Homo sapiens: one gene and its partners. The protein of the gene in region 2 interacts with the protein of the main gene of each other region in a biochemical or structural test. Each region holds a gene or a part of one and is shown on either strand. Other genes may lie near its edges. The genes, in order: JOSD1, USP15, CDC73, STK33, USP8, RIGI and FHL1.

What was found.
Region 1: of the proteins of USP15 (region 2) and JOSD1, one has a biochemical effect on the other in vitro, tested with the Homo sapiens proteins (one large-scale study listed by BioGRID).
Region 3: the proteins of USP15 (region 2) and CDC73 form a complex in vitro, tested with the Homo sapiens proteins (one study listed by BioGRID).
Region 4: the proteins of USP15 (region 2) and STK33 form a complex in vitro, tested with the Homo sapiens proteins (one study listed by BioGRID).
Region 5: of the proteins of USP15 (region 2) and USP8, one has a biochemical effect on the other in vitro, tested with the Homo sapiens proteins (one large-scale study listed by BioGRID).
Region 6: the proteins of USP15 (region 2) and RIGI form a complex in vitro, tested with the Homo sapiens proteins (one study listed by BioGRID).
Region 7: the proteins of USP15 (region 2) and FHL1 form a complex in vitro, tested with the Homo sapiens proteins (one study listed by BioGRID).

The regions. Positions count from the first base shown.
Region 1 is NC_000022.11:38,690,944-38,694,443, forward strand, and holds part of JOSD1 (josephin-1), read right to left. Parts: intron 1-3,500.
Region 2 is NC_000012.12:62,389,404-62,392,903, reverse strand, and holds part of USP15 (ubiquitin carboxyl-terminal hydrolase 15), read right to left. Parts: intron 3,474-3,500; coding exon 3,390-3,473; intron 3,300-3,389; coding exon 3,205-3,299; intron 3,122-3,204; exon of another isoform or gene 3,108-3,121; coding exon 2,916-3,107; intron 2,041-2,915; coding exon 1,925-2,040; intron 1,748-1,924; coding exon 1,475-1,747; intron 1,089-1,474; coding exon 1,018-1,088; intron 649-1,017; exon of another isoform or gene 633-648; coding exon 517-632; intron 1-516. UniProt on the Homo sapiens protein: Hydrolase that removes conjugated ubiquitin from target proteins and regulates various pathways such as the TGF-beta receptor signaling, NF-kappa-B and RNF41/NRDP1-PRKN pathways.
Region 3 is NC_000001.11:193,125,031-193,128,530, reverse strand, and holds part of CDC73 (parafibromin), read right to left. Parts: intron 3,420-3,500; coding exon 3,314-3,419; intron 1-3,313.
Region 4 is NC_000011.10:8,475,729-8,479,228, forward strand, and holds part of STK33 (serine/threonine-protein kinase 33), read right to left. Parts: exon of another isoform or gene 1,556-3,500; 5' UTR 1,522-1,555; exon of another isoform or gene 1,024-1,521; 5' UTR 959-1,023; intron 945-958; exon of another isoform or gene 372-944; intron 1-371. UniProt on the Homo sapiens protein: Serine/threonine protein kinase required for spermatid differentiation and male fertility. Promotes sperm flagella assembly during spermatogenesis by mediating phosphorylation of fibrous sheath proteins AKAP3 and AKAP4.
Region 5 is NC_000015.10:50,430,905-50,434,404, reverse strand, and holds part of USP8 (ubiquitin carboxyl-terminal hydrolase 8), read right to left. Parts: intron 1-3,500. UniProt on the Homo sapiens protein: Hydrolase that can remove conjugated ubiquitin from proteins and therefore plays an important regulatory role at the level of protein turnover by preventing degradation. Converts both 'Lys-48' an 'Lys-63'-linked ubiquitin chains.
Region 6 is NC_000009.12:32,457,500-32,460,196, forward strand, and holds part of RIGI (antiviral innate immune response receptor RIG-I), read right to left. Parts: exon of another isoform or gene 2,016-2,697; coding exon 1,872-2,015; exon of another isoform or gene 1,543-1,871; intron 1-1,542.
Region 7 is NC_000023.11:136,203,547-136,207,046, forward strand, and holds part of FHL1 (four and a half LIM domains protein 1), read left to right. Parts: intron 1-1,355; exon of another isoform or gene 1,356-1,393; intron 1,394-2,860; coding exon 2,861-3,042; intron 3,043-3,469; coding exon 3,470-3,500.

The DNA of each region.
Region 1 (3,500 bases), on a different chromosome or scaffold from region 2:
TAGGAGGCAGAGGCTGCAGTGAGCCGAACATAGGAGGCAGAGGCTGGATGTCACCACTGCATCCAGCCTGGGTGACAGAGTGAGACTCCGTCTCAAAAAACAAACCAACAAACAAAACAAAACAAAACCCCATGCTCCTGGCCGGGAGTGGTGGCTCACACCTGCAATCCCAGCACTTTGGGAGGCCAAGGTGGGAGTATCGCTTGAGCCTGGGAGTTAGAGACCAGCTTGGGCAACATGGCAAAACACTGTCTCTGCAAAAAATACAAAAATTAGGCGGGCATGGTGGCATGTGCCTATGGTCCCAGCTACTCGGGAGGCTGAGGTGGGAAGATCACCTGAGCCAGGGAAGTCAAGGCTGTGGTGAGCCATGACTGCACTCCAGCCTGGGTGATAGAGTAAGACCCTGTCTCAAAAAAAAAGAAAAAAAAAAAAAACCCACAGAATTAAAAACAACAAACATACTCCTGCCACTGCTTAAAACCTTCTGATGGCACCTAAAGCACTTAAATACACTCTAAACTACTTCCTTTGGCATGCAAGGCCCTCAAGGTCCTGCAGATCTCATCTCTTACCTTTTATTACACTGACCTTCTTACTGTTCCCTAAAAACAAAGCTCTTTTTCTCACTGTGCACTCATGCACTCACTGTTCCCGCTGTCTAGAATGTTCTTTCTGTAGTTCCTTATTGTTTGGGTGTCAAATGTTACTGCCATAGAGAGGCCTTTTCTTTTTCTTTTTTTGAGACAGAGTCTGGCTCTGTCGCCCAGGCTGGAGTGCAATGGAGTGATCTCAGCTTACTACAACCTCCGGAGAGGCCTTTTCTTGACCACCCAACCATAAGTTTCTCCCAGTCACTACCTCACATCAACCTTTTGATTTAATTACAGCCCTGTCACTACCAGATGTGTTTCTCATTGGTCTGTTTTTCTACACTAGACTGACAGCAGGGGCCTTGACTATCTGTGAACGCTACACTGCTAGGGGCCTAAAGAGTGCCTGGCACAAGACAGGTGCTCAAGGAATGTTTGCTGAAATGTTCAGTGTTTATTTTTGTTGTCCTTCTCTTTCCCTGTAAACATCAGTAACTGACTCTTAAAAGGGCTTATATGCTCATCTCCAGGGCTAGCAAAGAAATCTGCAACCAAACTTTATCTTACCTGTAATAATAACTATAACTTATTGAAAAATCTCTGTGCCAAGCACTATGATAAGGTACTTTAATTTGCATTTCATTTAATCTTCACAATAAACCTATGAGGATATGAATTATTTCTATTGTATAGGTCCATAAAACTGAGGTTTGGTGGTTTTAACTGACCTGCCCATGAGCACTTGCAAGTGACAGAACTAGGATTCCACTGTGGATTCATTTGAATCCAAAGTTATGCTTGCTGTCTTACAGCAAGGACCCAAGAATCAGAGTGGCAGGGGATGGGGGCTTGAAAAGAAGAGAGGCCAGCTACATCCCTGAGGACTAGGGATGAAACATAGCTTAAAAAGACAAAGGCTCTCCATGGGTACTCACACGTTTGGATTAAATGAGAACACACTGCCAGGTGCAGTGGCTCACGCCTGTTATCCCAGCACTTTGGGAGGCCGAGGTGGGAGGATCACTTGAGGCCAGGAGTTTGAGACCAGCTTGGCCAACATAGTGAAACCCCATCTCTACTAAAAATACAAAAAAATTAGCCAGGTGTGGTGGCAGGTGCCTGTAATCCCAGCTACTCGGGAGGCTGAGGCAGGAGGATCGCTTGAACCCGGGAGGCAGAGGTTGCAGTGAGCCAAGATCATGACATTGTACTCCAGCCTGGGCAACAAGAGCAAAACTCTGTCTCAAAAAAAAAAAAAAAAAAAAAAAAGAAAGAAAAAAAGAGAACAGAACACATATGAAAGAAGGCCTAGCCCCTGATATAATTGGTTCCTTTCCCAAGTTTCTTGTTCCTTTCACTGAAGTCTCTGACCAGTACATGAATGAAGGCTCCAACAAGGAAAATGCTGAGTCTTCCACCTCATTCACCATCTAACTCCCTACCAGGCTCAAACCTTAGAGCGGCGCTTCCCAAGGGTGCTCCTGGAGATGCCATTTCCATGTTCATTAACAGAGGATCCCAGAAGGCATCCAATACAATAACAGCTGAATGAACCAAGTAGGTAAATGGGTTTCCTGCAGAATTCTTGGAGTCCCTAACATGCTAATCTTCACTTTGAATCTCAAGGAAAGGGGATTATAAAATATGCTTCAGTTCCCAAACAAATTTGACCACACATTTGTTTTGAGGTGTACCTTACAGAACTAGCTTTCCAATGATCTTTCTTCCCTGTCCTTCATCTTCTGTCTTGGATTCAAATCCTTTCCTATTACCACTCCATCTCTCTCCTAACCAGAGGCTCCTTACCTCACACCTTGACTTCTGAAACAGATTCCTAAAAATTGATCACTTTGCTTCCAAGCGCTCCTTCCACCAATTCAGCCTCTATGTTCCTGCCAAATTCACCAAGGCATCAATTCACTTCCCTTTGTATATATAGGAACTGACAATGGTACCAACTGCCTGGTTGGCCAGTTCTACACTTCCTGGCCCCACTTGGCCAGCTATATCCCTCTCACTGGGCTTAGTGCACTTTAGGCACCATGATCATATGGCCTTTATTCTATTTTTTCTTCCTCTGTCACCTAGGCTGGATTACAGTGGTATGATTGTGGCTCACTGTAGCCCCAAACTCCTGGGCTCAACTGATTCTCCTGTCTCAGCCTCCCTCTTGAGCCACTGTGCCCAGCAGCCTCTATTCTTTTATCCTATTTCCTGTTCCAAGCCAAATCCTACAGCTCCTTCACACCCTATCTCTTCCATAGGATCTTCCCTGGATCCTCTGTAAAAAAGGGAGGGAGAGTGAGGACCATACATATCTGAGTTCATATCCTAGCACCGATCAACACTAACTGTGGGATTTAATCTCCATGCCTGTTACCTTGCCTGTAAAAATGGAAATAATTACTATTTTATAGGACTGTTGGAGAATTCAGTTATTTCATATATGTTCAATCAAACACTAAATCCCTGGATAGTTTTTTACTCTATATCCCTCACAGCTAGGCACTGGCAACTCAATAAACACGTTAGGCAATTTGAATACAGGAAATATTGAGTAGCTTCCATCTCATGCTAGAGGAATGGTCATTTGAATAAGTGGGGCCCACCCAGCGTATTCACCACACCAGCACTTGCTTGTACTTTTAACAGTAATCAAGTGGCCACTGTGTTAGCTGCTTTTATGGGCTTTATCACTTCCAGCCATCTTGAGATACCATAAACATGGAAGCTGAGGTGCAAAGGTTATGGTGACTTGCACAGTCAGGCACAGCTGGTGAGTGGCAGGGCTAGGGTCAGCCTCTACCCTAAGACAATACTGAAGAGTGCTCTGGATATTTCAACACACCAGTCCCACTGAGTTCCATGGGATCCTGATGATTCCAGTGGAAAGTATTCTTGAGACTC
Region 2 (3,500 bases):
TATTATTTTTATTTTCAAGACATTTTCCAAATAGGTTAAACCATTACAAATTAATATACAAATAAATACTTAAAGACATAATGAGGGCTAGATTATTTCTCTTTTAGTATGCAAAAAAGACATAGGTCACAAATCTGTGCTGGAAGACAGGTATTAGAAAATCTCAAATCTGGGCTCTAATGGAATAACACCACAAAATATATCACTACATTTTTCCTAAAAAGCTTCTCTCAAAATGATTACATAGCTAAAATTTCTTGGAAAAAAGGTAACTAAAATGAATTAATAGTATAATGGCTATTATGAAAAACACAGTAATAAAATTAAGGCAACACTGTAATCGTATTTTTTAAGACATTCCCATCCCTCTTAATAGGCTACAACTTATATAAAGAATCCTTTACTATTTAAAACATCAAAGAGAATTTAGTAATTACTTTTTCAACTTGATGTGGCACATATCTCAGAATAAATCCTTAAAGAAAACAAAAACAATTATTTAATTTTGTCTCTTACCAGGGATCTTCAGCACCTAGCTTTTCTTTTGTTGTAAAAAGTTCAATGCAATCTTTTAATTTCACAAAGGGTTTTTTAGGAGGTTTATACTCCACACTTTCATGTTTTTCAAAGTCCTAAAGAGAAGTATTTCTTGAGTTAAGAGAACAAATGAAACAAAACTCATTTTAGTGATACCATCTTACTATGAATAATAATGAAAACTCCTAAACTTTCTCAAAAGAATCATAAAGCTTATTTCAGTTGAGATTTATATACTTCTAAATAATTCCTGTACACTTCTATATGGATGACCAAAACACGTTCAAAATGAACTCTGAACCTTTAAAAAAAAAAGGTATTTTTGCAAAGACTTTTTTTTCTAGTTCATGACCAATTTTTTACTGGCAAAATAAACATATTTGGTGGAAGCAAAGAGTGTAACACAACAGTATGATTATCTCTGGTAATCACATAAAGTAAATCAAGGAAAGGTAAATAAGTGAGTGAGTGATGACTTACCTCAGCAGCATTTTCATCAAAATATCTTTTTTTCAAATCAGGATCCCAATCCAAAGCAAGAAAAGATCTTTCTAAGGTGGAAAACATATTTTTTCTTTAAAATTTAATATGTCTTAGTATTAAAGTATATTTTAATGTTAGGATATACACCAGAATAAACAAACAGCAATCTTTTCTACTTGTACTGGTGATTAGGGCAAACAGCAGTTTCCAAGCCATTGAAATAATTTAAGAGTTTAAAAAAAGATAGAAAACTGAAGCATGAGTTCAATCTCCATTTATGAAACACAAACACACATTTTAGTCTACTTAGATATTAAGTCCTTTCATGTAAAATTTGAGATAGAAAAGTAAATGGTATATTTCTTGACAGAGCTGAATTTCATGGTTTTCACCTAAAAAAAAAATAACATGCTCGGCTTGTTTAATGTTCAAGCCATTTTTCACAAATACTTACCATCTAGCCTAAGCTGCCTATCATCAAATCTTATATGCCTGGTATCATCTTTGATGTAGTTGATATCAGTATTGCCTAAGTTGTTGAACTGGAATGTAAACAATCGTTTTTTGTGTCCCGTGAGTTGACCTTTGCAAGTATCCTCAGTACATAATCCATTTTCAGAATCATTATCTCCTCCAACTGAATCTTCAGACTGACTGTTTTCATTCTCTGAGGGAAGTTCTTGATCCTGGCTGGATTCATCATCTGGCTCATCTGTTTCCATTTCACCTAATTTTAGATATTAGAGAGCTTTAAATAAACCCAATGCTATATTTTTAAATTATTAATATTATTAATCCTAGGTTTCCAGGTATTTTTTAGTTCTTTAATTCCCATTTTCTTAACTTTTTCTCTGAGGCAATTATCTAAGTGAAACATTTGTACAATTTAACAGAAAAGTCTTACTTGGTGAGCCTTCTTCATGTATGCCATTTGGGCCATTCCCATTAATATTTTGGTCCTTACAGCAGTGTAGGGATCCTTCAGTTTCTTCAGTTTCAGTAGATATTTTGACATATCGGCTTAAGTAAAATCAAAAATCAAACAAGTTCAGTACTACAAAGATAAAAACTTTTAAAAAGTTTTCCTTCTATCAGTAAAACAAAACTTTTTAATGCAGTAACAGTGGTCACTTAGTAGATTCAAAGATAAATTCAAACTTTTAGTACCATAAGTATAACTGACTAGTAATTTGTTTTGCTCATCTTTATAAAAATAATTAATATGTTACCTTTTAGGTTAAATGTTAAATGTTTGTTGCAAATAATTTCTCAACTTACCCTATTTAGATGGTATATATTGTTGCTAAAAACACTTATATTTGTATAATGTGATCTTTATATATGGGTTATGAAACTATAATAATTAGATATGCAAGAAAGAATACTAAATATACCAGCTTTCAAGGATAAAAGGGATCAAATGACATTCTTGATAACTTCATAATTCAAATCAAGGGATTTATTCAGGAAGGCAAAAAATAGGCTGCCTTACAATACTATTAATCATGAACTGGTAATGTATATAAAGAAATGAAGCATTTGACATTTGTTATTTCACAGTGCAAACATATGGCATTTGACATTTGTTATGATTTCACAGAATGAACATGTAACACATAATTATTATAACATAAATTCCTATGTCCTTCTAACTGTAAACTTTTGGTTTAAAACTGCTACAGACTTCGTGCTTCCTGGGTTTGAAATTACCTCCATAATATGTTTTACATGAATAAGAAAGTGGATTAGGACTATAATCTGACTATGAACAAAATTGAGATAATACAGACTTGAATAATTATATTCCAATAGTACCTTATGTGTTTATTTTTATTAGCTATTTTATATTTTATTCCCATATTTATTTTGTCAATGTAGAATTGTCTGGCACTTACCACATTCTCAAGAGCAGGAGATTATAAAGTTTGTCTTCAGTATTGTTTCGTGGTACAGCCATAAGAAAGGGCTGACCAAAAAGTGAAGAACCAGTATGGTGGGTATAACTCGAGTGTCTGAATTTTTCTCTTAGGCAAACAGGAATAATCACGTGCTCTGTATCTTCTGTCCTATTGATGTTAATTTCAAACCTACAAGGACAAAACTGACCATAAACTCTCAAAATTTTATGTTACTTCTATTAATTTTTTTTCAAGTAATATTTTGCACAATGAGTTTTATACTTACACATAAATATCATCCCGTTCCATAATACTACTAAGGTTTTCATCCATAGCGAATATTCTGTGAAATCTATGATTGTATATATCAGTAACTATCATCTAAAAGGAAACGAATTTCTATTAAGCTGGTTTTACAGCACTGAGAAACTAAATACCAACTTATATACTTCAACCCCAGAAACATCTTACCTTATCTGCAGGTATTCCTGACAAAGCAGACAATGCTGTACAAAGATCTAATATGTTTCCAATTTTGGGGACAACCACTTTGTACTAAAAAACAAAAAAAATTGTAATGAA
Region 3 (3,500 bases), on a different chromosome or scaffold from region 2:
GAGTTCGAGACCAGCCTGAGCAACATGGAAAAACTCCAACTCTACAAAAATATAAAAGTTAGCCAGGCATGGTGGCAAGCGCCTGCAGTCCCAGCTATACTCCCAGCTACTCAGGAGGCTGAAGGAGGAAGACAACTTGAGCCCGGGAGGGTAAGGCTGTGGCAAGCCAAGATCCTGCCACTGCACTCCAGCCTGGGTGACAGAGCAAGACTCTGTCTCAAAAAAAAATAAAAAATAAAAATAAACCAGTCTATATGGAATATCATAAACAGTTAAAAGATTTGAGTTAATTTTAAGTTACTGTTTCTAAGTCTAATAACTTACATCATCATTTGGTCACTACTGAGTTATGTACACATCACAATCCACTGAAAAAGATTACATCTACTCACACTAAAATAGGAACTAAGGATCAGGAATCTGTTTTCAGAGTGGTCTGCTCAGCCGGACGCAGTGGCTCACGCCTGTAATCCCAACACTTTGGGAGGTCGAGGCGGGCGGATCGCGAGGTCAGGAAATCAAGACCAACCTGGCTAACGTGGTGAACCCCCGTCTCTACTAAAAATACAAAAATTAGCCAGGCATGGTGGCGTGTGCCTGTAATTCTAGCTACTTGGGAGGCTGAGGCAGGAGAATCCCTTGAACCCAGGAGGCGGAGGTTGCAGTGAGCCGAGATCACGCCACTGCACTCAAAAAAAAAAAAAAAAAAAATGAGTGGTCTGCGCACAGGAAAGAGCAAATAACACAAAGTAATTAGGAGACAACAATCTCGAATTCATAGAATTTTGGAATTTTAGAATCCTACTCTTTCAATCTGGCAAATACTTATGAAAAATGAGTTAAATCTTATGCAACCAAGGGTCCCAAGGTCCACAGTAACAATTACAGCTATCAGTTATATGCACAACCATTTCCCAAAAACAGAATCTATAAATCTAAGCCAACTATCTGAATCTTTGTTACACTAAAATGAATATATCCAACAAAACACTGTAAGAACTACCTAATTTAGTTTTTAAAGATCTGAGTTAAAATAACCTTAAAGACGGAGCTGGTGCTATTTTTTTCCCCTTATTTTCCCAAGTAGTCCCACTCTAATTTTATTTTTTTAAATATGTAACATAAATATATATTTCTTACTCAGGAAAGCAGAAGCCTTATGGTTTAATACAAAGCCCACTAAGTGACGGGATACTTTCTCAATTGCTATAATCACACACACACACACACACACACACACATTTTTTTTTTTTCCCTGAGACAGAGTCTTTGCTCTATCACCCAGGATAGATGCATTGGTGTGATCATGGCTTACTGCAGCCTCAACCTCCTGGGCCCAAGTGATCCTCCCACCTCAGCCCCTTGAGTAGCCAGCTGGGAGTATAGGTGCACACTACCACGCCTGACTAATTTTTTTTATTTTTTGTTTTAACAAAGTTTCCCTATGTTGCCCAGGTTGGTCTTGAACTCCTGAGCTCAAGTGATCCTCCCACTTGAGCTCAGCCTCCCAAAGTGCTGGGACTACAGGCATGCACCACCACACCTGGCTTTTAGTTGCTTTAGACAACAAGTTATTGTTTGAAAGATACATAAGCCAGAAACCTTAACTATTTCTAGTTGGGAGGGAGGTTAGAGTTATAGAAGTTAAGTTTCACACAGCTTAATGTGATCCAGCAACGGTGTTAGGTAACTCAAAAAGCAGCTCCAGTGATGACAGACACAGTGATATTTTAAAAAATTGTTTTAAGAACTATAAGAAAAGTTTAAGAAGATTGTTTTAAGAACTATAAGAAATGGGAAAAAGTAGTTATTTATAAATACATTTCATACTTAATTTTAAGTGTATACTTGTAAGCAAAAGCAACAAATATTAAAAGCAGACATTTAATTATTTCAATTATATCTTCAAAAAATTTTATGTTCAACTCTACCAAAAATAATCTGAGGGAAAAGCTCATTTAAAAAAATTAAATATCTTTTAGGCCATTTTATGTGGGCATTATAGTACTTTTCCATGTCATACAGCTATCCTATCCAAATAACTCTGAATCTTATTTACTTATCAATTATAATATACTGCTATAATTTAGGTCTTAATGATACTTCCCTACAGATGAAGAATCTCATCATCATAGTTTATGAAATTAGTTCTTTTCAAGTTGTTTCCAAATATTTCCTCTGAGTAATAAATTTTCAAACACTGAGAAAGCAAGCAAAACTAAAAACAAATGAACTTCTCCAGAGTACTAAAACAGCTGCACAAAACTGATTAAGAAACAATTTTTTTAAATGTCTGCTAATCTTAATCCTTACAACCAAAAAAAGTTTTCTTGAGATTAAACTAGAGTTCTGAAGTAACAGGGTCCTTCCACAGGCTTACAAGTTTTTCTAAACATCTCTATAAATACTTTTAGCGTTTCGGGTTTTCTTTTTCTTGAGATGGCATCTCACTATGTTGCCCAGGCTGGTCTTGATCTCCTAGGCTCAAGCAACCCTACCGCCTTAGAGTCCCAAGTAGCTGGGATTACCAGCGTGCACTAAGAAGCCTGGCTCTATAAATCCCTTTAAAACTTCCTTTGTTATAAACATTACCCACACTTTACATGAAAAAATATCACAGATTAAAAAGTCTGTGTAAGTCACACAGTCACCTAATTTTGACTCTCCTGGAGACACTCATACAAACCTTTCATTCTTTTGATTTGAAACCCATGAGGGAAGCTATCCATTCCAAATGATACCTACTACCACGAAGCCAAAAAAAAAAAAAATGTGTTAATACAAAAATTAGCCCGGCATGGTGGGCCATGCCTATAGTCCCAGTTTCTCAGGAGACTGAGGTGGGAGGCTGGCTTGAGCCCGAGAAGTAGAGGGTACAGTAAGCCGAGATCACACCACTGCACTCCAGCTTAGGCAACAGAGCCAGATCCTATCTCAAAAAAAAAAAAAAAGTTTTAAAATGAATTATTGGCCAGGCACAGTGATTCATGCCAGTAATCCCAGCACTTCGGGAGGCCGAGGCAGGAGGATCCACTGAGGGTAGGAGTTCAAGACCAGCCTAGGCAACACAGCAAGACCCCCTCATCTTTAACAACAACAAAAAAAATTAGCCAGATACGGTGGCACAGGCCTGCAGTCCTGGCTACTTGAAGGCAGAGGTGGGAAGATCACTTGAGCCTAGGAGTTCGAGGCTGCAATGAGCTATGATCACACCACTGCACCCTAGCCCGGGCAACAAGGCCAGACCCTGTCTCTTAAATAAATAAAAATAAAACTGATAAATAGATAGATAAGTAAAATGAATTCTACTTACAGCTGCACGTCGGACATAAACAGGATGAGAAAGGTGCACGTTATTAAGTAGAAATAAAATGGAATCCAATGTGTAGTACTCTCTGGGTTGGCCTTCCTTTCCAGTCCTGAAATAATTAAGGCAAGATTTTTTTTACTGACAATTCTAATTCAACTCTTCAGGCTGGATTCATTTATATAAACAACTT
Region 4 (3,500 bases), on a different chromosome or scaffold from region 2:
GTTGGAAAGATCTCAGTTGAGGAGGAAGAAAAATACACTCTGCAGTACATATAAAGGAGTACTTTGAGAAACTTCCAGAAGTAATTGGGAGTACATTATTATGGTTTTATGCTATACCATTTCAGACAGTCTTTAAAAGTAGATTCTGTAGTCATAGATTGATAAACCTGGGGATATATGCAATATACTGTTATCCTTTGAACTGGAATAAACTTGACTAGAATAGGAAATTAAATATATTTATTTCATTAAAGAAATACCTGGTTTTCTAATCAGAAAGCTGTGCTTTTATCAAATCCTTATCTATTGTGATTGGCAGGAAAATCTGCCAGGCTCATACGATTTTATAAAAGATATTGCTAGTAGTTTACCTAAAAGTTGTCCTCTCATTCTTTCTTACTAACAGAATCCTGATCTTCTTTGGGGCAGCAATGTGCTCATTAACATCCTACATTTCCGGGCTTCTCTTTTAGATTAGGGGTAGCCATGTGACTTATGGCCATTAAGCTTAACAGAATGCAGGCAAAGCTGCACTTAAAAGAAAATTTATATTCTTAAACCTTTATTAAAATCAGAGGAGAAAGGATAAAAATATACTAAGTGTGCAGTCAAATCTAAAAGATAGAAAAACATAATTAAAGAGTAAGCTTAAGAAACAGAAATGACAAAGAAATTTTGTTGAATTTTGCCTATACGGTCCCAAATAAACGTACTCTTCACTACCTCTCAGCTTTCATATCTCCTTTCTCTCAGATACAGTAGCCTCTTGCTGCTCCTCTAATATGCCAAGTATACTCCCTTCTCAAGGCTTTGCCCTTCTGCTTCCTCTGCCTGGGATGCTCTTCCCTCAAACATTCACACGGTCTGCTCCCATGCTTCACTGTGGCTTCTGCTCATTTGAAAGGCTTTCCTAACCACCTCATCTAAAACAACAAGCCCATGCCCTCTCCCCCCTTACCTTGCTTTGTTTTTCTTCATGCCACTTATCATTTCACTCAGGAAGTTTCATAGCAGAGTCCTCTCCTACTTTTATTGAACAGATGATTCTTATATAAATGGTTTCAGAGCATGCAAAGCCATCCGGTTCATTTTATTCACTTAAAATAACCAAAATCTGACCATAGTAGTATTCCCCAAAAGGGGGATTTACAGGTCAGTCTCATTTGTAAATAGATTTTAAAATCCTAAATGCTGTACTTACATTTACCCCAGGTAATGTATATAGTATATTATAAGATTATTAAATAGAATAGATAAGTCTGCCCAATAAATATGACCTTTCATCAAAGTGGTGGGAAAAAAATTTCTATTGTGATTAAAACTCATAATGGAGAGTATGAGGACAGGTACATTAAAAGTGCCCTCCAGACAGGCAGAGGAAGAAAAGAATGCAACTGATGCCACTCAAAATACACACACACACACACACACACACACACACACACACATACACATCTCTTATAAACACTTAACCTGGTTTTTCAAGAATATGTAGCAAGACAAAGAAAATTCAGAATGTACCTGTATCACTTTCCAAAATGATTTAACTTCAGGCCTAGAAGAAAATGTTTTGCATTTCAGGTTAAATATAAAACCCATAACCATCAATGACTCAGAGCAGTGGAGTAGATCTGCAAATGATAGGCTTTCTGTTTGGGAAAAATAGTGCTTTCTCTCTGAGGTGTAGAGAAGTCCCATGTCAGATGTGTAAAACATCATTTTTTGCATACATTAAGAATATTGATTTTATGGTACTTTTTATAAGAAATTGTAAGAAGTATTCGTAACGTACAGGTTTATTTAACTGCAGCTGAGTTCTTTCATGATAAACAGTACTCCTAAAAGCATACTTACCATATCCTTCAAGGTTTACAAATATATATATTCACAAATTTTCAATGGAATCTTTAAATATTAAAATTTTCATTTTAAGATAGATTTTGGGGGATCTAAAAACAGCTATTCTTTTCTTAGCTTTGTTCAGAAAGCATTTCCTTTAATTTTCATCAATTTTTCAATAAGTCATTATCATATCACTGACATTGTCACAGACTTCTGAGTACTTTCTCGCTCCAGTCTTCTAATTTATCAGTTGCCTTAGAAGTACTTGGTAGCTATATGCATAAAGCATAGGATTTCTTTCTATTACTCACTGAGAAGTTTCATTTTTGCTCTCCAGTCTACCAAGTGCTATATTTGCCAAAATAATGTTCTACTTTCTTACCACAGCAATTCTAAAACAACAGGTTGAATAGCTGCATGCAAAATTTCTTGACAAGAATTAGATTTCAAATTTAACTTCTTTTTGGCTGGCTGAATTCTAATTATTTTAGTTTAAACAAAAACCAAGATAGAACAAATGTTTACTCACATTTATTTCTTTCTCATTTACGAATTGATCTGAAAGATTTGTTACTAAAACAAATCTACTATTTCACAGGACAAATGATGTCACTCATATTTTAGAGGCTTAAAATTAATCAAGTATTGCAAACTTATGTAAACACAAAGATTAATAGCTCTTTTTCTATAGAATCATGGAATTATGTTTAAACAGGACTTTAGATATAAAAATATGTATTACAAAAACCAAAGAATCTTCTAATACAATAATGTTTCTTTGTGTCTCCAAAGATTGGACATACATAGGTACTGGACATAATATAAGCAAATAAAATAAGTTCAAATTATGTCAGTACTTAACTAATACATGAGCCTTCCTTTGGCTTAAGGTTTTCATTTTATTTTTAGAACTAAGGCAAGTCAATAAAACAATTCTGATAATGAAAATCCCTGGGCTTTAATTTAATCATAAAAAGGTCTTTTACATATTGGCCCTAGAAGATACACTTACAGCAATTTCCTCAAGAAAATGAACACAAGAATGGTTTTATAAGATATAACTAGCTATAATTTTCTTCTCCAAAAGCAATTTTTTTAGTTTTCTTTGCTAAGACTGTGTCTACAAGAAACCTAAATAGTCAATTCAGTCAAAATGTGTTTTATTCAAGTAAAGGGGAAAAAAAAAAAAACTTACGAATTGTCTGACATTCTGCAGACCAAGCCAAATGACTGACTGCTTTAGTAACATGTTTACAAAGCCTAAAGAAGGGCCCAGTGAGTTTTCTAGATGATATTGCTATATTTTAAGGAAGACTAGCACTTGTTTATTCTTTTCATTAAGGGCATGATTAGGAAAATGAGTCTGTATTGTCTTATAAAAGGATTTACAGTATATTTAAAATTCACATTATTTCAGAATTTTTTTAAATGTTTGAGTGATGTTTACTATTAACTTTTCCTTTCTATTTTAATTTGCATGATGTTCCTCACTGATTAAGCAGTAATACGGAAGGACAGTCTTAAATGTGGCCCCTATACTGACAGTTAAAAGCGAGAACAGAGGCCGGGTGCGGTGGCTCACGCCTGTAATCCCAGCACTTTGGCAGGCTGAGGCGGGTGGATCACAAGGTCAGATCGAGACCATCCTGGCCAACATC
Region 5 (3,500 bases), on a different chromosome or scaffold from region 2:
GCAGCCGGGCGTGGTGGCTCAGGCCTGTAATCCTAGCACTTCGGGAGGCTGAGGCAGGTGGACTGCTTGAGGTCGGGAGTTTGAGACCAGCCTGGCCAACATGGTGAAACCTCATCTCTACTAAAAATACAAAAATTAGCCGGACGTGGTGGCGCACACCTGTAATCCCAGCTATTCAGGAGGCTGAGGCAGAAAAATCGCTTGAACCCAGGAGGTGAAGATTGCAGTGAGCGGAGTCTGGGCGACAGAGCAAGACTCTGTCTTTTAAAACAAAACAAAACAAAACAAAACAAAACAAAAAACCTTATGCTTCAAGAAGGATTGCAAGTGAAAAAAAAATAACTAAGTATATGCAAGAAAAATTAACATGCTTCTAACAACAAAAAATAAAAATTCTTAAGATGTGTAAACCTGACAAAGAACTTCAGCCTTAGTCAAACAGCAGTGCTCCAAAAGTGAAACCCAAAAGTGTTGAAAATGAGTTAACAAAGAGAAAATGCAGCCGTGCACAGTGGCTCACGCCTGTAATCCCAACACTTTGGGAGGCCAAGGCGGGCGGATCACGAGGTCAGGAGATCAAGACCATCCTGGCTAACACGGTGAAACCCCGTCTCTACTAAAAAGACAAAAAATTAGCCGGGCACGGTGGCGGGCACCTGTAGTCCCAGCTACTCAGGAGGCTGAGGCAGGAGAATGGCACGAACCTGGGAGGTGGAGCTTGCAGTGAGCTGAGATCGCGCCACTGCACTGCAGCCTGGGCAACAGAGACTCCATCTCAAAAAAAAATAAATAAATAAAGAGAAAATGTTCTTTCTCTGACATCCTTCTGCTCCTTTCTAAGACAAAGAGTAGGGATTTGATGACTGGAACCACAAAGTGAAGACTAAAAGGTAAAAAGTGAAAAATGAGGTTTGCAGTCATTCAAACTGGTCCTGATTTTAAGCAGGGATTCACACCAGCCACTCCTAAGGTCTTTGGCAATATTGAAAGGAAAGCAAAAGTTGTCTTTGTTGGTCACCCACCATCTCTCTCTATTTCTGCCCTTAGGCAGCAACAATACTCAACATAAGTATCTTCTCGCTGTCTTAAATCTCATAATCCACTCTACACTCGTTCTGTATAAGGTGCCACAAACAACTAAGTATTGATTAAATAACTTTTTTTTTTTTTGGAGACGGAGTCTCACTCTGTCGCCCAAGCTGGAGTGCAGTGGCATGAACTTGGCTCACTGCAACCTCCACTTCCCAGATTCAAGCAGCCTCAGCCTCCCAAGTAACTGAGATTACAGGCGCCCCGCCACCATGCCCCACTAATTTTTGTATTTTAGTAGAGACAGGGTTTCTCCATGTTGGCCAGGCTGGTCTCGAACTCCTGACCTCAGGTGATCCGCCCGCCTCGGCCTCCCAAAGTGGTGGGATTACAGGCGTGAGCCATCGTGCCCGGCCAATGAAATAACATTTTAAAGTAATCCTCAAGTATTAAGAAGGCTCAACCCTCTCAAGATTTAATCACTGCTAAAATGTATGGTATTTTCTGAGCAACTACTATGTCTCTAGCACTGTGCTAAATGCTTGAGGGCAGTGTTTTTAAAATCCATTAGAAGGTCATGATCAGCATTAAAAAAATAGCAAACATCAGACTATGTCACACATAGTAAGGTTAGGTACTGCTTCGTAAAATTGTTTCAGTTATGTACATGTGTATATGATATAACACTGGATGAAAATGTAAAATGTATTTCTTAATACAGGTGACAATTTTAAAAAAAGTATGAAAGTCTCACACTACAGCAATGTAACTCCAAGTATGGTCCAATGACCAGTGCTGATTGGGGAACTGTTTGTTATCAGTTTGTGATAAAATAAGAAGTTTGTGACAGAATGTAGATCAATTAAGCACACTGACCTTTTTAAAGTAGCAGCAAGACTTTCTCCATGCAAAAAGCAGTGCACTGACTGGGCGTGGTGCCTCACAGCTGTAATCCCAACACTCTGGGAGACTGAGGTGGGAGGACTGCTTGAGCCCAGGAGTTCAAGAACAGATATTTATGTTGAGTATTGTTGTTGCCTAAAGGGCAGAGATAGGGAGAAATGGTAGGTAGCCAACAAAGTGGGCAACAAAGTAAAGACAAAAAATTTTACAAAAAATTTAAAAATTAGCTGGGCGTAGTGGTGCACATCTGAGGTCTCAGCTACAAGAAGAAACAAACTTAAGTTCCATCTCTTCCATCCTTTATGGTCCCAGTTCTTGGAATTTGTTTCTTCATGTGAATCCTACAATGCTTGTGATCTATATCATTCCTTAAATACAGTAATGGGATCAACAGACAATTACTATAAGGCTTTAAAATCCTCATACACACGCAGTGCTCATGATGATGTGATGAGAGAGAGAACCTGGCCTTGAGGACAGAATTTAGCTAAGAACAGGGTAAGAAAGGAGGACATCTGGCTGGGCATGGTGGCTGACACCTGTAATCCCAGCACTTTGGGAGGCTGAGGCAGGCAGATCACCTGAGGTCAGAAGTTCAAGACCAGCCTGACCAATATGGAGAAACCCCGTCTCTACTAAAAATACCAAATTAGCTGGGCATGGTGGTGGACGCCTGTAATTCCACCTACTCAGGAGGCTGAGGCAGGAGAATCTCTTGAACCCAGGGGGCAGAGGTTGCAGTGAGCCAAGATCGCACCACTGCACTCCAGCCTGGGCAACAAGAGTGAAACTCCATCTCGGAAAAAATAGTAATAATAAGGAATATTACAGAAGTTATTGGGAAATAATCAATCGGATAGAGGGAAAATGTTGACATGTCTTTGGATCCCTGGCACCTATCTCAATAGTCCTCACATAGTCACCACTTTAATAAATGTTTCTCCCTGTCAGCTGAATTTAACTAAAAGGAAAAAAAAATGTTGACTAACAAGAATAACTAAATTATATTATGTAGGAGATGGAGTCACATTATGGAAGACTTTGGAAGCCATCCAGAATTCTTTATATTTGATTCAGCAGGCAATAAAAGCCAGTTCCTGATGGGAAAAATATTATCTCAAGATGGTCAAATTAGGGATATGTAAGTAAGATTGAAAGGAGATGAGAACAAGGGAATGATACTATGGAAAAGAGTAACTACAAGGTCACTGCAGAAAAGAACACAAAATGGTAGAAACATGCTTTGGTAACTGGTTGATCGAAACAGTATTTTCTCTTGCTTACACACACACACACACACACACACAGAGGCACACACACTGTACCCTGCAAAATATGAAGAGCAGTAGTGCTATTAACAAAAAAAGTAATACTGCAGTTTAAAACTGATCAGTTTACAGCAGCGTTTCTCAACCTTGCCATCACTCACATTTTGGACCAGATAAACATTTGTTGTGAGAGGCTGCTCTGTGCAATGTGCACTGCAGGATGTTTAGCAGCATCCCTAACCTCTACTAGACGCCAGTTTACTATCATCCTTCCCTTCCAGTTGTAACAACCAAAACTGT
Region 6 (2,697 bases), on a different chromosome or scaffold from region 2:
AAACCCCACAATAATCTGAGGCAAAGAACAGGTGGGTCTCACTTATTTTACAATTGGAGGAAAAAAAAAAATAGATTCACCCAAAGTCCAGAGGATCCATGCACCTGACTCCCCTCTACAGGCAGGGTGGGGTTGCAAGTGAGGACACTGGGCACCTCATAAAGAAGAAGATTAAGAAGGTTCCAGGTAACCCAGCTTCTGAAGGTAGATACTCATTATTCAAAAACAGAAGCGATGTTTGCTGAAAATTTGTGAAGCTGAAGTTCACCAGTGGCCCTGGCAGGCACAATCCAAAGGATACAGGGAAAACGACCAAGGTCAAGATGCAATTGAAGAAGGTCAGGGACTAATGTGTCCACAGGCCCCACCTAGAGTCAACTTTAGAGTAAACAGCTCAGAAACAAATGCAGATCCAACATACTAGTCCCTCAGGAAAACATAGGGTCTAAAAGGGCCATTTTTAGTAGAACAATCACCCAAATTGGAGCTGAAAGGACCTTTTACAGCTAAAGAAGCAGACTTAGAAAGGTAAGGGAACTTAGCAATATGACTCCTAATAGGCTTTTTGCCCAAACAGCTGAGCTGATGAGAGATTTCTGCTTTCTGAAGACGAACGGAACATCCTGAAGTAATAACTCCTCATCTGAGCCAGCCCAGCCCCTCCACTGTGCCCCCCATGCAAGAGTTATACCCCATATTTCTCTTTGGAGATTTTTCTAACCCTTTCTCTGAAAGTTTTAAGAAAGAAATATAAGGCTGCAATAGAAGGCTAATCTGCAGATGTCACATTTTACAAATAAGGAGATATTTTGTTTTCATTATAAAAGTGATCCATAGCCCAAAAGGAATGTTTGGAAAACATAAGGTAGTAGGAAAAGAGAAAAAAAGTCATGGAATCTCACCACCAAAATATTAATACATTTTGGTATAGTTCCCCTAGCCTTTGTTTTTCTGTAGCAAGGTAGGTTTTTTGACTTTTTCTCTTGACAATGACAATGAATGTATTTGCTGCTGTTGTTTCACACAGCTACAAAGTAGCATCTTTACAATTCTGTGTTCTGGTTACTTTTTTCCTTATTACCATTAGTTTGTAAGCAGTTTTTCATTATACTACATAAACTTCATAATTTTTTAAAATAAACTTTACTTTGGAACAATTTTAGATTTAAAGAAAAATTGCAAAGATATCCCAGAAAATTTCTGCATACCCTTTACCCAGTTTCCCCAAATGTTAACATCTCATATACCACAGCACATTTGTCAAAACCAAGATAATTAACATCAGTACATTACTATTATCTAAACTACAGATTTTACCACTCTTTCTCTAGTTGTATCCTTTATCTGTTCCAGGAGCTAATCCAGGACACGTCATTGCATTTAGCATGACTTTTTTTTTTTTTTTTTTGAGACAGAGTCTTGCTCTGTCACCCAGGCTGGAGCGCAGTGGCGCGATATCAGCTCACCGCAACCTCTGCCTCCCGGTTCAAGCGATTCTCCTGCCTCAGCCTCCCGAGTAACTAAGATTACAGCCACCTGCCACTACGCCCAGCTAACTTTTTTATTTTTAGTAGAGACGGGGTTTCACCATGTTGGCCGGGCTGGTCTCGAACTCCTGACCTCGTGATCGCCCACCTTGGCCTCCCAAAGTGTTTTGATTACAGGCATGAGCCACTATGCCTGGCCAAAAACTATTTCTTTATTATTGAACATTTAGTATTTTTTTTTCACTTCTTAGCTTTTTTTAAATACACAGATCATGGCCACAGTAACAATGGAAATAATAGTAGTTTTATTATAAATATTTCACCAACAGTAAGCTGTAGCTAGTGCTAAAACATGACCAGGCACTTTGTAAAAAGGCAGCTTACCTCTATCACTCTTACGTCAGCTGTGTAACATGCCAAGGCTTTGCACTTTCTGCAGAGCAGTTTTTTATTTTCCTTATCAGGTACAGGTTTTGGTTTTTCTTGACTATCTCTGATGAATTTTTCATGAGTCTGTATATGCAGAATCTAATGCAAAAAGAAAGACCGCAAATGTAATTTGAGTACAACATATATAGCAAGAAACAGGCACAGATACGTACAATACATATACATGCACGCACATGTATAATCATTCATATACAACTTCCATGAACATATGGTACCTGACTTTGTAAAATCACAGATTTTATTGGTTCTCCTAACTTAGTATTAGTCAATGCTTAATTGTGGCCTCCAATTAGTCTTTCAATTTCTTCATCAAAAATGCTCATAAAAGCACTAAAGATGTCCATAGAATAGTCATATGAACTATGCTTTCTACTTTAGTGTTTGGCAAAACTTGGGAAAAAAAACAAAACCTGTACCAGATATACAATATGCGCTGTTTCAGGCATAATTATATCCATTTGCAGGCACAAACTCAGTGAGTGATACAACAGGCAGAAGAGCCCCTGATATGGTTTGGCTGTGTCCTCACCCAAATCTCAACTTGAATTGTATCTTAACAGAATTCCCACGTGTTATGGGAGGGACCCAGGGGGAGGTAATTGAATCATGGGGGGCCAGTCTTTCCTGTGCTATTCTTATGATAGTGATTGTGTCTCACAAGACCTGATGGGTTTATCAGCGTTTCCACTTTTGCTTCTTCCTCATTTTTCTCTTGCCGCTGCCATGTAAGAAGTGCCTTCTGCCTCCCTCCGTGATTCTG
Region 7 (3,500 bases), on a different chromosome or scaffold from region 2:
TCTGACATTTTCAACACCCTTTGTTACTTCTATCTTCACTGGTGAGCTGTGGATTATTTTATCATCTGGATGCTTAGAACTCTGAGCAAGTCATGTTCTAGAACTATGAGACTAAACAATGAAGAACTTTGCACTGGTAATATCAAAGTACTGAAAGTGTGTGGTTTTAAAGTGTGAAAAACATGGCAGTTAAGATCTCTCAGGTACTTTGAACCATAATGCAGTTTTCCTTCTCTTCAAAACCTCTACTTCTAAATGGCATTCATTGTGTTTTCTAGTGTTTTTTCTTTGGTATGACACTAGTTAACCTGTATTTCTTACCATAAAGCTAGGACTCAAATACTAAGAGGTTTGACTCACCTTAGGTGGAACTTTATATAGTACTTTAACTTAGAAATATTTGGAATCAATTTCTGCTTATAAAGGTATCAAAAGCAAGTGATACTAAAACGAGTAGGTTCAAAGTTGTATACTAAATAGAGACCTTGGTAAGAGAGAATGAGGGATTTTCAAATATGGTCCAGAAGATAGTCTCTGAAAGGCTAAACCAGCAATGGTTACTAGCCATGCAGGAAGCCAGTGCTGTCTAATCTTACAAATTCTGTTTTCCTGCCAAATGGCATTTAGGAGCAACTGATAATTTATTTCTTGCCACTTGCCGTTACTGGAGATTTATTTGGTTTCTCAACTCAGCCCTTAACAAGAAAGCAAGTCTTTGTTGAGGGCACAATATTATCAGTATGGCAAAGCTAAGACGAGGCTTCTGTGTGACACTGGAAAGACCAACAAGAATGGATTAAAGAGAGTGATTTTCCATATGCTGTCACTGGGACAGGTACTTTTCTCTGTAGACACACAGGCTAAAAGCAGTTTAAAAGCTTCCTTACCTAAACAGTACATAGTTCAAGGAGATAGGCCCTGTGTCCATTGCGTCTCTAGTTTTTGTTTCTAACCCATTATATAAAGAAACATCCCAGTTTGCTTTTTAGAGAAAAGTTCAAGTTAGAACCATTCTCTGGTCTTGCTAAGTCTCTTAATTGTGACACAACTGTCCTAAGCAACTGTCCTTGCACAAGAATGTCACTCATCTGCTTCATCTGCCAGCTCCTTAGAGATGAGGGGGGTCTGTGTGTCAGCAGGAGGCAGAAGGCCCTGTGGCTCATCCAGTGGCCTGATTTCCTTTGTTTGGAGGCTTGGTTCTGAGTGAGAGTTCAACAGCCTTTGCCCAGGCGGCTTCTCAAACACAGGGTGTGGTTTCCTTAGCTCACTCTCTGCTGTTTGGTTGCTCATGGCAACAAGATCCAAATAACTTGGACATGTGTTTGTATAAAAAAAACCTGGGAATGGAACCCAAAGTGAGACTTTGGGGCTTTCAGTTAGTGGAAGAGCTGCGGTGAGTACCAGGCAACTGCTCATTTATTTTCTCTCATTCTTTCTCTCTAAATTACGCTGGAAGTTTGCTAGCACAATAACCATGTTTGTGGATAGTTTTAGAAAGTAGTCTCAATTCTTGTATTTCCTGCACAAATGAAATAATTGCTATCTATTTACCCGTGCAAATTTCTTTTTCGGGGGAGAGGAACAAATTAGCATATGTTTAAAGAAGTTGAAAGCTAATAGAAACTCATATTTGGTACCTTTTGGGTGGCAGGATTCTATAGGAAATGCCTTGGCAAAGGGAGCTGCAGAGTGCCTTAGTAATGCTTGGGATTGCAGGCGTGTTGTCTAGGGCCACAGCCGGGGAGGGGACCAGGGAGGGAAGAGGGGTTGTTCATACGGAGGGAGTGGAAGGGATTCTTGGAATAATTTTTTCCAGACTCTATTTTAAGATTATAATTTTTAAGACAGCAAATATCCCAAATGGTAATACTGGTTACACTTCTATGAGCATATTGATTCTCACTTGCTTGACTCAAGGGAGGGTTTGATTTTGGTCACAAAGCCACCCGTGACTATGACAGATAATTCAAGGTTGCCAAACTTGCCTGTGCCAATTGACAAAGCCATTTATATAAGTCCTCTCTTGCTATATTGCTCTGGCCTCAAAAGGCAGTAAACTCTCTTGGACAAAACTCTTTAGGATCTATTCAGGGATTTAACACTTTTCTGCTAAATTGCAAGTAAATTTAAACATTTTAAACAAATTAACAAGGATTGCTTAGGTACCTGGTGTGGTACAGAATGAGCTGTCAGTTTCTATTCTGATGAATAGAATTTTATAGATAGGAGGAACGGGAGGCCTCCAGAGGATACTACCCTCCCTAAAAAGAGACGGAGGAAGAGCTGAAAGCGGGCAGAGAGGCTTCTTGATGACAACGTGGTGGGCTTAGAGAAGCTGCTGCCTGCAGGCGGGGCCCCTGCTTTCCTGCACCCCTTTGAGCCTCTGCCCCACACTCTTCCTTTGTATAAAACAACTGCTTCTTGCCTGCCTGCCCCATCACACCCCTCCACTCCATCGGGTCACTGCTCAATGGCACAATAGCACTGCTCAGCCATACCTCCCAGCATCCTGTCCCCTATCTGGTGACTTGGCCAACACAGGCTCTGATCCACTTGCCCCGCTCCGCATCTTTTGTGAATCAGCACAGTTGATATATCTGAGCAGGGGCTTCTACCATCTCCCCAGGGAATCACTAGCCATCGGCCATCTGGCCCCGCGGGGTGCTTTTGTTCCTGGAATCATAGTGAAGTATCTGTTGTCTTGGTGCCTGGTAGTCAGCTCGGCTGAAGGGGAAGCTGGGTCTTGGTCCTCAGACCCCATGGACTCCAAGGCAGCATTGTGCAGGTGCCTCTGGGAGCCACTGCTCAGGGTGCTGGGGCATTTCCTGTGGTCATTTGTCCTGTCTGCTTGCCCCCGCAGGTCCCTCCAGCTACAAGGTGGGCACCATGGCGGAGAAGTTTGACTGCCACTACTGCAGGGATCCCTTGCAGGGGAAGAAGTATGTGCAAAAGGATGGCCACCACTGCTGCCTGAAATGCTTTGACAAGTTCTGTGCCAACACCTGTGTGGAATGCCGCAAGCCCATCGGTGCGGACTCCAAGGTAACGGGCATCCCCATGTGCCAATGGGAAGGGCTGGGTTTTGGAGTGTCCTTTGCCCACAACCATGGCAGCAGCAGCTGGCTGTTAGGATTTCCCAGCATCACTGCAGCCACCTTGAGGCCTCAAGGAAGCCTCCTCCACTCCCCAGGCCACAGTGGCCCGAGCTGTTTAATGTGGGGCTTGACTGGATGGGCGCCAGCGCCCTTGCCAGCTCTTTTGATTGCATTCTAAATATTTCAAGAATTGTGAGATTTTTATCCTCACCTCAGCGTCCCTCCTATAAGAATAGTCACTGTGGGGCAGTCCCAGGTGTAAGGGACTGTGTCATCTCAGTGGTCAGTCCCAGGGAAATCAGCCTTATGGGAGGGCTCCTGCCACCACCCCCAGCACCCCTCATGGTGGCCCACCCTGTCTGCTTGGTTTCCAGGAGGTGCACTATAAGAACCGCTTCTGGCATG